2 linked regions of the Homo sapiens genome follow. The protein of the gene in region 2 purifies or fractionates together with the protein of the main gene of each other region. This does not show direct contact. Each region holds a gene or a part of one and is shown on either strand. Other genes may lie near its edges.

Region 1 (4,668 bases), on a different chromosome or scaffold from region 2:
GGAGAGGTCAGCCAGGATGAGGAGGAGGAACTTTATCCTGTGGGCATGGAGAGCCAGGGAACTCACACAAGCAAGACCCTGACTGGGGGCAGTGCTCTGGGATGGCCTGAGTGCAGCGTGGATTGTAGTGTGAGATGGAGGGGTGAGGCTGGCTGGGGTTATAAGTGGAGCTGGAAAAGGTGAGCCAGGGTCTGAGGGCCTGGAAGGTCACTTTGGGTGTAGCACATACAGGTCTTAAGGAGTAGCTACAGAGGCACATGGAGGGCGTAAGGTCTGTGGAGCTTAGGGGCTTGGTTCCCTCATGGTAGGGGTAGGGGCGCTTTCCTGACCAAGTCTTTTCCCTTCCTGCCTCCCCCAAAGGCTCAGCTCCTGGAACTCCGGACAAACAACTACCAGCTTTCAGATGAACTACGCAAGAATGGTGTTGGTGAGCCAGGAGGGCCTTATTAGATGGGGGTGGCTTTGGGGAATGGTGTCCGAGGTTTTCCCTCAGAGGCCTGGCAGGAAGGCCTTTCAGTTTCTTGCCACTGGCTGAGGCTGAGTTTCCCTGCTTTCCCGACACCAGAACTCACCAGTCTTCGACAGAAGGTCGCCTACTTGGATAAGGAGTTCAGCAAAGCTCAGAAGGTACCTCCCTCCACCCACCCATCCACCTACCCATCCACCCTTGCTTCTACCTATCTGACTCATTCATCCCTCCAGTGAGCACCTACAGTGAACCAGACCTAATGTTGCATGCTGTTTTCACGTAGTCATTTAAAGGATTCTCAATGGAATTCTCTTTAGTTGCTAATTTTACCTAATCCTGCTTAATTTAGTGATTAATTTTAATTTACTTTTAATTCATTTCTAATTTCAGTTACTCATTCTCATTCACTGACTTTTAATTAAATATTCAAATCTATCAGTAAATCTACCTCGAATCTGCCTCCCATCCTCTACTCACACTCCTGCCTTGTGCTCCTACTTCCCATCTCTGTCCTGGTCCAGTTGGGAAAATGAGAGCAAACCCACCTCTCAGATCCTCTAAAGATGAGATAGGATATAACCTATTGTGGCCCCTCAAGACATTCGAGGTGCTCCTTTGTCACTGCTCTGTCCCCATATCTAGCCATACCTAGCACAATGTTAATACATAATATGTGCTCAATAAATATTTGTTGGATGAACGAATACAGTATGCAGAAAATCCGACAGTCAGGAAGCTGCACTTCTCTTTGGTAGGATGCTGATTCCCCTAAGCTGGCAATGCTCTTGGCTGCCCAGTAGGGGAGCGACAGTTTCCACACTGCGTGGGAGGGACCCACAGAGACATGTATGGACAGATGTAGCAATGAAGCCACAGTTTCTGAGTCTGGAGATCCAGCCCATAAATGGTTAAATACCAGGGCATCTCCCTACCTCCCCTGTCCCCCCACCAGCCTCAAGAGCTTCCAAGAAAGGATGATTTATGTGTGCTGGGGCCCCAGGGCAAGACTTGCATTCATTCACTCACTCACACACTCATTCCATCATTCCTTTGGGCTCCAAATTGTCACACATGTTCTGTGGTTGAAGATGCTCCCATCCTGCAACCCCTGTCATCCTTGTCCTCCCAAAACGCTTGGCACAATTGTCTCCATATCCTAGTAAGGCAGTCCATCTCTGTTCACTTTAGCTCTCTTCCCACCCACCCCCACTTTAGGCACTGAGCAAGAGCAAGAAAGCTCAGGTAAGGGGATCCCTTGTGGGTGAGTGTGACTGGGAGATGTCTTGGTGGGCTATTTCTGTATGCTGATATTTCCTTGTACTGGCCTTTCTTTCTTTGTGTGCCTTTACATCTGCTACTACCTCACTGCCATGTGTTGCTGTATCTGTCCTTGTTTCCCTGTATTTGTCCTAACTCTGTGTCTCTTTCCTTCTCTCTCTTTCCATTCTTTTCTCTGAGTCTCTTTCTGTCTCTGTCTGTTTTCCTGTTCCTGTCTCTCTGACTCATTTCTCTTCCCAATCTTCTCTTTGTCTCTCCCCCTCCTGTTCCTGTCTCGGTGATTTCTCTTTTTTCTGCTTTCTCTCTCTAACTCCTTGTTTCTTCCACCCCATTCCTCTCTCTTCCTAACTCATTTCTTTTCCTGACCCCTCCTCTTCTCCCTGTTCTGTTCTCTCCCTGTTGATTTCTGTTTGTTCTTCTCTCCGTCTTTTTCACTCTCTCCCTCCCAATCCCTCTCCCCTTTTCTATCTCTCCCCCTTTCCCCATCTCTACTTCCTCTCTCCCCAATCATTATCTTCCTGTCTTTTCCTCCGCTCTCTTCCTCCCTGTATTCCCTTCTCTCTACCTTCCCATGTCTTTATCTTCCTTTCCCTGTCTCTCATTTTATCCCTCCCCATGTCTCTTTCTCCTATATCACCTCATTCTCTGTACCCTATGTCCTCTCCCACCCATGTCATTTTCTCCCTCTCTCTGTTTCTTTGCCCTACCTCCCTATCCTTTTTGCCCTTGCTGGAGTCCTGGCCCTTGTCTGCCACTGCAGGAAGTCGAGGTATTGCTGAGTGAAAATGAGATGCTGCAGGCAAAGCTGCACAGCCAGGAGGAGGACTTCCGTTTGCAGAACAGCACACTAATGGCCGAGTTCAGCAAGGTGCTGGTGCCTGGGATAGTCAAAGGGGAAATGAGGGGTAGGGGTCATCTGGGCTGAAACCTAACAGCGGCAGAGAGTGATTGGACAGGGTCTGGCCCTGGAGCACTGTCCGTGGTGCTGAAACAGGTCCTGGATTGCTGCTGGGGGGCAGTAATTTGACAGATGGGGCCGCTCACTCTGCTGGGATTAGAAGGCTTTGAGCCCTGAGGTCACCTGGTTCCTGGCCAAGTCACTCCTTTTATTTGAGCTTCAAGTCTCCATGTGTATAATGTGGGGTTGATGCTGTGGTGCTCCAAGGTGTTGGGGGGTTTTAGGCAGAGTTCTTATGCTTAATATAGGATGGAAAAGTGTTCGAGCTTCTTCCCTTTTCTCTTTCTTCTCTTCATCTGACATGAGCCTGGGGTTCTACCTCTTCCAGATAATTCATCCTGGAGCTACTAATTCTATCTCCCCATTGATTTTAGTGTCCTGTCTGTTTCTAAATCTACTGGGCAGTTGGAGACATTGTCTTTTGTTCCCTCATCTATCTTCTGTATCCACAGTTGATAATTGTCTATGTTTTTAGTGTGTTTTAAGGAAAAAAGTCTCATGGCAGCAAATTTTTTTGAGATGGAGTTTCACTCTCATTGTCCAGGCTGGAGTGCAATGGCATGATCTCAGCTCACTGCAACCTCTGCCTCCTGGGTTCAAGCGATTCTCCTGCCTCAGCCTCCCAAGTAGCTGGAAGTACAGGCATATGCCACCATGCCTGGCTAACTTTGTATTTTTAGTAGAGATGAGAGAAAATGACATGGGTGGGAGAGGACATTTAGTAGAGAAAATGACCATGTTGGTCAGGCTGGTCCTGAACTCCCGACTTCAGGTGATCCACCCGTCTTGGCCTCCCAAAGTGTTGGGATTAAAGGCGTGAGCCACCGCGCCCGGCCCAAAAATGGTATTTCTAAGGCTCCATCTGAGAATATAGTGCCTATGACCTTAAAAAAACAAAACCGAAAATAACCTTTAAGCAGGTACAATACCAGGAGAGGCAGTTGAGCAAGTAGTAGGTACCAGCAGGGACTCTGGAACCAGAAGGCCTAGATTAAAATCTTGGCTCTACCTTTTACTAACTGTAACCTTGAGGAAGTTACTTAACTTGCCTGGTTCTTGGTTCCCAAATGTTTAAAATGGAAGTCATGATAATAACAGTACCTGCCTCTTCACAGGGCTTTTGTGAGGATTAAATGAATAAATGTACGTAAATCACTTAAAACAGAGCCTTGCACATAGTATCAGCTATGGAAGCATTAGTTATAATATTATCCTTCTATTAACTCATCTTCCCTCTAAAATATTTGACTTTTTAAAAGTTTTATGGCCGGGCGTGGTGGCTCAGGCCTGTAATCCCAGCACTTTGGGAGGCCAAGGCAGGCAGATCATGAGGTCAGGAGATGGAGACCATCCTGGCTAACGTGGTAAAACCCCGTCTCTACTAAAAATACAAAAAATTAGCCGGGTGTGGTGGCACGTGCCTGTAGTCCCAGCTACTCGGGAGGCTGAGGCAGGAGAATCGCTTGAACCCGGGAGGCGGAGGTTGTAGTGAGCCAAGATTGCACCACTGCACTCCAGCCTGGGCGACAGAGCAAGACTCTGTCTCAATTTAAAAAAAAAAAGTTTTATATCCACCCTGTGGCCCTGCTTTGCCTTAGCCTCTACCACTTATCATCTGCTGTTTCTACAGCCGCCTCCCTGGTCTCTTCACTTCTAGTTTCTTCTACTTAGTTCACACCACAGAGGCTGTTCTGACCTGCAGATCTTATGACATCACTCCTTTACTTAATACATTCCAGTGCCCCAGTCCTGCTCCTAGTTCAGAGCCCCTGGTATTCACATAACTGCTGGCTTCACTGACTGACTCCTCACTGCTTCCTGCCTCCAGCCTCCATGGTATCATGATTCTTGCAGAGTGAGGCAGGGGCAGACATTCTTCCATAAATCCAGCTTGTTTCCCTGCATCTGCCCTGGGCCAGCACTGGGCTAGTCGTAGAGACTTCCTACATAGTCCCCTTCCTCC
Region 2 (5,280 bases):
GAGGCTGAGGCAGGAGAATCGCTTGAACCCAGGAGGCGGAGGTTGCAGTGAGTCAAGATTGCGCCATTGCACTCCAGCCTGGGTGACAGAGCAAAACTCCATCTTGAGAAAAAAAAAAAAAGAAGTTATGGGAAACCATCATATAACAGTACTAGAAGAGACTATTTCTCCCCAGTGCTCTCAGATCTCACCACCAGTTTTTCCTGGCCCTGGTCCTGCTATGACACAAGAAATCTTTTGCTCAAGGATAAGTCCTATAAATCAAAACTCCCACACATGGACATAAAATGAGACAGTGGCCAAATCTATGGGGTTGATAAGTCACTGCCACTCAGACATGCCTGAAATAATTAGAGAAGCATTAATTTCATTGTAGATTCTGGTGAGAGAATTTAGAAAAAGGCAGTGCAGCCCGGCCCTTGCACATGCTAAAGGTAAATGTTTTCTTCCTTGGTAAGTCTGGGTCCAGGCGAACAGGAACCAGAGCTGACCATAACTTTGATGACCAGGAACCGTCCACATCCACAGAACACTGGTTGCCACCACTCGCCAAACAAGTCTCTCTAGTTCCCTCATTTGCTCTATTTTTATCACTTGTCTCTTTTGTCTTTTTCTCATATCTGAGATGTAAGTGACTGTCGGCACTCTTTCTAAGCACTCTCCAAGCTTCCCTGAGGCTTGGAGGCTCATTTTTCCAGCTCGTGCACAGTGAAATAAAAAATATTCAGAGACTCTTCCCTGATAAGGTTTTGTTGTAAGACTGGGAGGAGCAGAGCTGGTGTGCTTTTGGGTGGCTTTATTTGTAATTGGAAAAGATTGGCCTTCATGGATGGTTAATCTATACCCAGGAGAGGCGTTTTCCTACTTTCTAGTTCTATAACTCACAGTCCTAAAAGGAGCAGAAGTTGATGGCATCAGGAGACCTGTGTTAAAATCCTGACTCTAAAAAGTTTATGATTGAGTCAACATACATTTGCAAAATACCACCAAGAAACCAGACTTTGGTGCTCAAAAATGGAAGACATAAACTCTGCTTTCAAGAAGCCTGCGGTCTCAGAAGGGTGTGGCAAATGCAGTATAATGGAGTGAAAGAACGGAGTGGACTTCATCCCAGGCACAGGAGGTGGCTGCGCCTGGCTAGGGGCTCCCAGCTTCCACCATGAGGTGGGATGCCAAGGTGTCTGCCCCTCTGGAGGACCTCGGCATCCAGAAGAGGCAGTTTCCTCCTAGAGGGTCACCCAACTCATGCAGGAGAATTCAGAAAATGATTGTTGAAGGAGGTAGCCCTTGAACTATAGAAGAGGTAGGGGTGAGTGACTTTCCAGGCAGGGAGGACAGCACAGACTCGGGCAGTGTCACCTATGAATTCATGTGCTCAATTACACTGTACATGCGAATCAGCTCTGGATCATTCATCCCTATGAGACCCTGATTCTTTGTCTGCAAAATGAAGACAACAACCCTTGCCTGGATACATAAAGAGTTGTGAGGATTCAATAAAGAATATAAAAGAGCTACACCAATTGGCAAGTCCTATTATTATGAAAGAGAAGTGTGGTACAGGACCTGTCAAGATTCAACCCAAGATAACAGTGCTATGTGGAGAAAGAATCTAGCCCTGGCTCTGCCACTAACCTCCCCACCACCATAGGCCTCAGCTTTCCTCATCTGTCCAATTAGTGGCTTGGAACCAGAAAGGCCAGAAGCCCTTCCTGCGCTGATATTTTATTTGTAAGTCCCCTTTAAATCCAACTGCCAGTAACTAGCACGTGGCTCCCGCCCCCAGACTGCTTCTTTATTCATTCCTAACCTTTACCTTGGCAGATGAAATATAAGATTCATCAACCACATTTGACAGCCCATGGCAGGTTTCCTGTTTTCCATCGTCCCTCTGCAGGTCACAGACACACAGAGCCCAGCCGTGGCAGGCTCAGCCGGGGTCCGGGGCTGCTAACAACGGCTACATTCCTCCCCCAGGGCCAAGGGAAATCCTGAGCGCAGGCCAGGGTTGTTTGGTTTTGAGGTGTGCTGGGATGAAAGGCACCCTGGAAGTGGAAGGTTCGGTCATTCATTAATTAATTACATCTATAATTGAGGGTTTGTTCTTAAGAGCGAGTCCTTTGAAAGTACTTTCCTTCAAACAGTGACTGCCACAAAGGCATCAGATATTCACCACCTTCTCGGCTGCCTCAGCACAGCAAGCTTTATTCTGGGACCTGAGATCCTGTTCTGAGCTGGCTTTCCCTTCTCCAGGCTCGCTCACCCTCCCTTTAGAGGTGGGGCTTATTGGGGGTGGAAAAAGGTGTGTGTATCTCTGTTGTTTAATGTCTGGTTTTTTGTTGCTGTTGTTGTTGTTTTGTTTTGGTTTTGGTTTTTGGTTTTTTTTAAGGAAATCTATACTACATCGAATATGCTTTCTTTTGGGTGGACTTTAACCTAACCCATTCCAGGTAAATGAACAATGGAAAAACTTCACGGCAAGATTAGAAAGATACCTGAGCCCAATACCCGCCTGATGTCGTGGGCCACACCTCCGGGTTACCAGGGGAAGGGAGGAAGCAAACTGTCATATTGATGTGGCTCTAAACAACAACAGTGTGCGAAGGCCCAGGGGCACTTTGGGATTGACCAAGAGGAAACACAAGTTGCACAATGATACAATCTTGTTGGTACAATTGTCAGAGAAGGGAACTCCCACAGCAAAGGCCATAAAACCATCCAGGGCAGTCTGGGGCGGCTCAGTTCTGCGGTGCCAGGGAGTGGAGCAGAGCTCAGCCCCGTCCCAAACACAGATGGGACCATGAACTCCGGACACAGCTTCAGCCAGACCCCCTCGGCCTCCTTCCATGGCGCCGGAGGTGGCTGGGGCCGGCCCAGGAGCTTCCCCAGGGCTCCCACCGTCCATGGCGGTGCGGGGGGAGCCCGCATCTCCCTGTCCTTCACCACGCGGAGCTGCCCACCCCCTGGAGGGTCTTGGGGTTCTGGAAGAAGCAGCCCCCTACTAGGCGGAAATGGGAAGGCCACCATGCAGAATCTCAACGACCGCCTGGCCTCCTACCTGGAGAAGGTTCGCGCCCTGGAGGAGGCCAACATGAAGCTGGAAAGCCGCATCCTGAAATGGCACCAGCAGAGAGATCCTGGCAGTAAGAAAGATTATTCCCAGTATGAGGAAAACATCACACACCTGCAGGAGCAGGTAAGATGCTGGGTGACCCTGGAGATCCAGATGGGGCTGCTTTGCCAGGGGACCCTCGGGAGGAAAAATGAGTCCAGAAGACAATTTCCAGGAAAATGGCATCAGCGCTTGAAGTAATTGTGCACAAAGGTTTTGGGGGATGTTTTCTTATTATATCTTAAATTTGGAGTGGGAAACGTCTGTTTTGTTTAATTAGTCTACTGTCCATGGATAATGTAGAAAAAGAAGGCAGCAAAAATGATAGAAGTGCTACAGACTGTTTCAAAAATGAGACTACTGATTTCTCACAGACCAAAAACATCTTTAAAATGTGAGGCAACCAGCTGCTGTTTAATGTCACTTATGACCCAACGATGTCATAGAAATGATAAGGGCTGGTGTTCATGCTGCATGCTCAGTGCACCAGGCATAAGAGAGTGTTTACTTTCTCATTACCTCAGTTCTGCTCCACCTCAAACTTTTTTGAACAATGTGGTTATCCATCGACAAAAGGCTGTTACACTATTTTGAAGATTATGCCTAAAAGTTGTCACCACACCAGCATATAGGTCATCATGACATCCCTAGATATTTCCGTTTGTGGGTTGCTTGCAGTAAAGTTGCTCACAGTTCTGACAATGGCATATTGCTAGAACCAATAATAATAAAATGAGCATAATTTTTAGAATCTGAGAGTTGAGATGGCTATAAAGACCTTGTTCAAAAAAAACCGAACTCTTTAACCAAACCTCAAAAAAGCTAAGCAAATACCTTCTGGGATGTCTCATAACATTAGCTAGAAGTAGAAGGAATCCAATCATCTCATAGGTTATGTTTTAAAGCTATCTAACTCCCCTCTTATATAAAGCAGTCCCAGAAAATTCCCTGTAAGACCATGATTTAACCTCCCCTAGAAAGGGTATCACAAGTTTCCAATATTTATATATATTATTTCACAATGCTCAGTCATCCTTGCTTGAATGTAGGAAGGACCAGTCAAGATAATATAAATCTGTCCTTGTAATGAACCCTAATTATTGAATAATCAACCTAATAACTGACTGTAATTACCTTAACTATATAGTGCATGGTTGTCTTTATGAAAAAAAAAAAAAAACAAGGTGACTCAACAGTCCTCATCATGTTTTTTTGTTTAATAAAGTTGCTTTGGTTGTAGAAAGGAGGAATTGAAGATTTTTGCAAATGGAGAGCAAAGGGAGACCATGACTCCCAAAAGAAATACAAGGTTAGAACCAGTCAAATAATTTATGAGCTCGCGGAAGAGATTTAAAAAAAAGAAAGGGAGGAAAGAGAGGGAAATGTTTACTGAGCACTTATTATGTACCTAGGCATCCTGCTGGATATTTAATACACATGTCAACACTATCCAAGAGTTTTCTGCAATGATGGAAATGTTCCATATTATTTTATTTGATTCTGCAAGAACCCTGTAAGGAAATGGAAGCTTGGAAAAAAGTGAAATAGCCATCCAAAGCCATCAGCAAGAAGCAGAGGTGGGATTCTAACTCAGGTCTGTTTCCAGTAGCCTCATAAATTTCACTACAGTGTAGTGCTGCCTAGCCCACCTCATATAAAAATGACACTTAGTATGAATAAAGATAATGCATTATACTTGCATCATTAACCACACATCACATACTTCATACACATTGTCTCATTTAATCCTCACAACTGTGTGGAGCAGGTATTTGTATTCTCAACTTACAGATAAGGAGACTGAGACCTAATCATTGTCTAAATCCTTTGGAACAGAATTGAGAAAAGTGAGTAGGTGCAATGGGGGGTGTGGGGAGCAACCTGCCCACCCTTCAGATGACCTGGAATTCTGGGTTCTGAGATTGAATAGGAAACTTCTTTGGCTTTGAATTTCACTCTTTTCTGGATTTTTACCTCTAACATTGTGTTTTCTCTACACTTGAAGAAAGAAACTCTTTAAAGTTGAGGTTGTCTATCTACCCCAACCTCCCTCATTTGAAGATGAGAAAACAGAGGTGCAAGGAGGTCCCACAATTACCTGGGGCTTATCCTTCCTGGACCTTGGTGAAATGCTCTGAGTGGATACAGTTCTCCCGTACCCTCACTTT

What was found. The genes of interacting proteins can lie anywhere in the genome.
Region 1: the proteins of KRT23 (region 2) and GRIPAP1 purify together in Homo sapiens (affinity purification with mass spectrometry; one large-scale study listed by BioGRID and IntAct). This does not show direct contact.

Annotation. Positions count from the first base shown.
Region 1 is NC_000023.11:48,995,197-48,999,864, reverse strand, and holds part of GRIPAP1 (GRIP1-associated protein 1), read left to right. Parts: intron 1-360; coding exon 361-427; intron 428-565; coding exon 566-627; intron 628-1,684; coding exon 1,685-1,711; intron 1,712-2,507; coding exon 2,508-2,615; intron 2,616-4,668. UniProt on the Homo sapiens protein: Regulates the endosomal recycling back to the neuronal plasma membrane, possibly by connecting early and late recycling endosomal domains and promoting segregation of recycling endosomes from early endosomal membranes.
Region 2 is NC_000017.11:40,934,124-40,939,403, reverse strand, and holds the start of KRT23 (keratin, type I cytoskeletal 23), read left to right. Parts: upstream 1-1,757; 5' UTR 1,758-2,058; intron 2,059-2,133; exon of another isoform or gene 2,134-2,450; 5' UTR 2,451-2,800; coding exon 2,801-3,196; intron 3,197-5,280.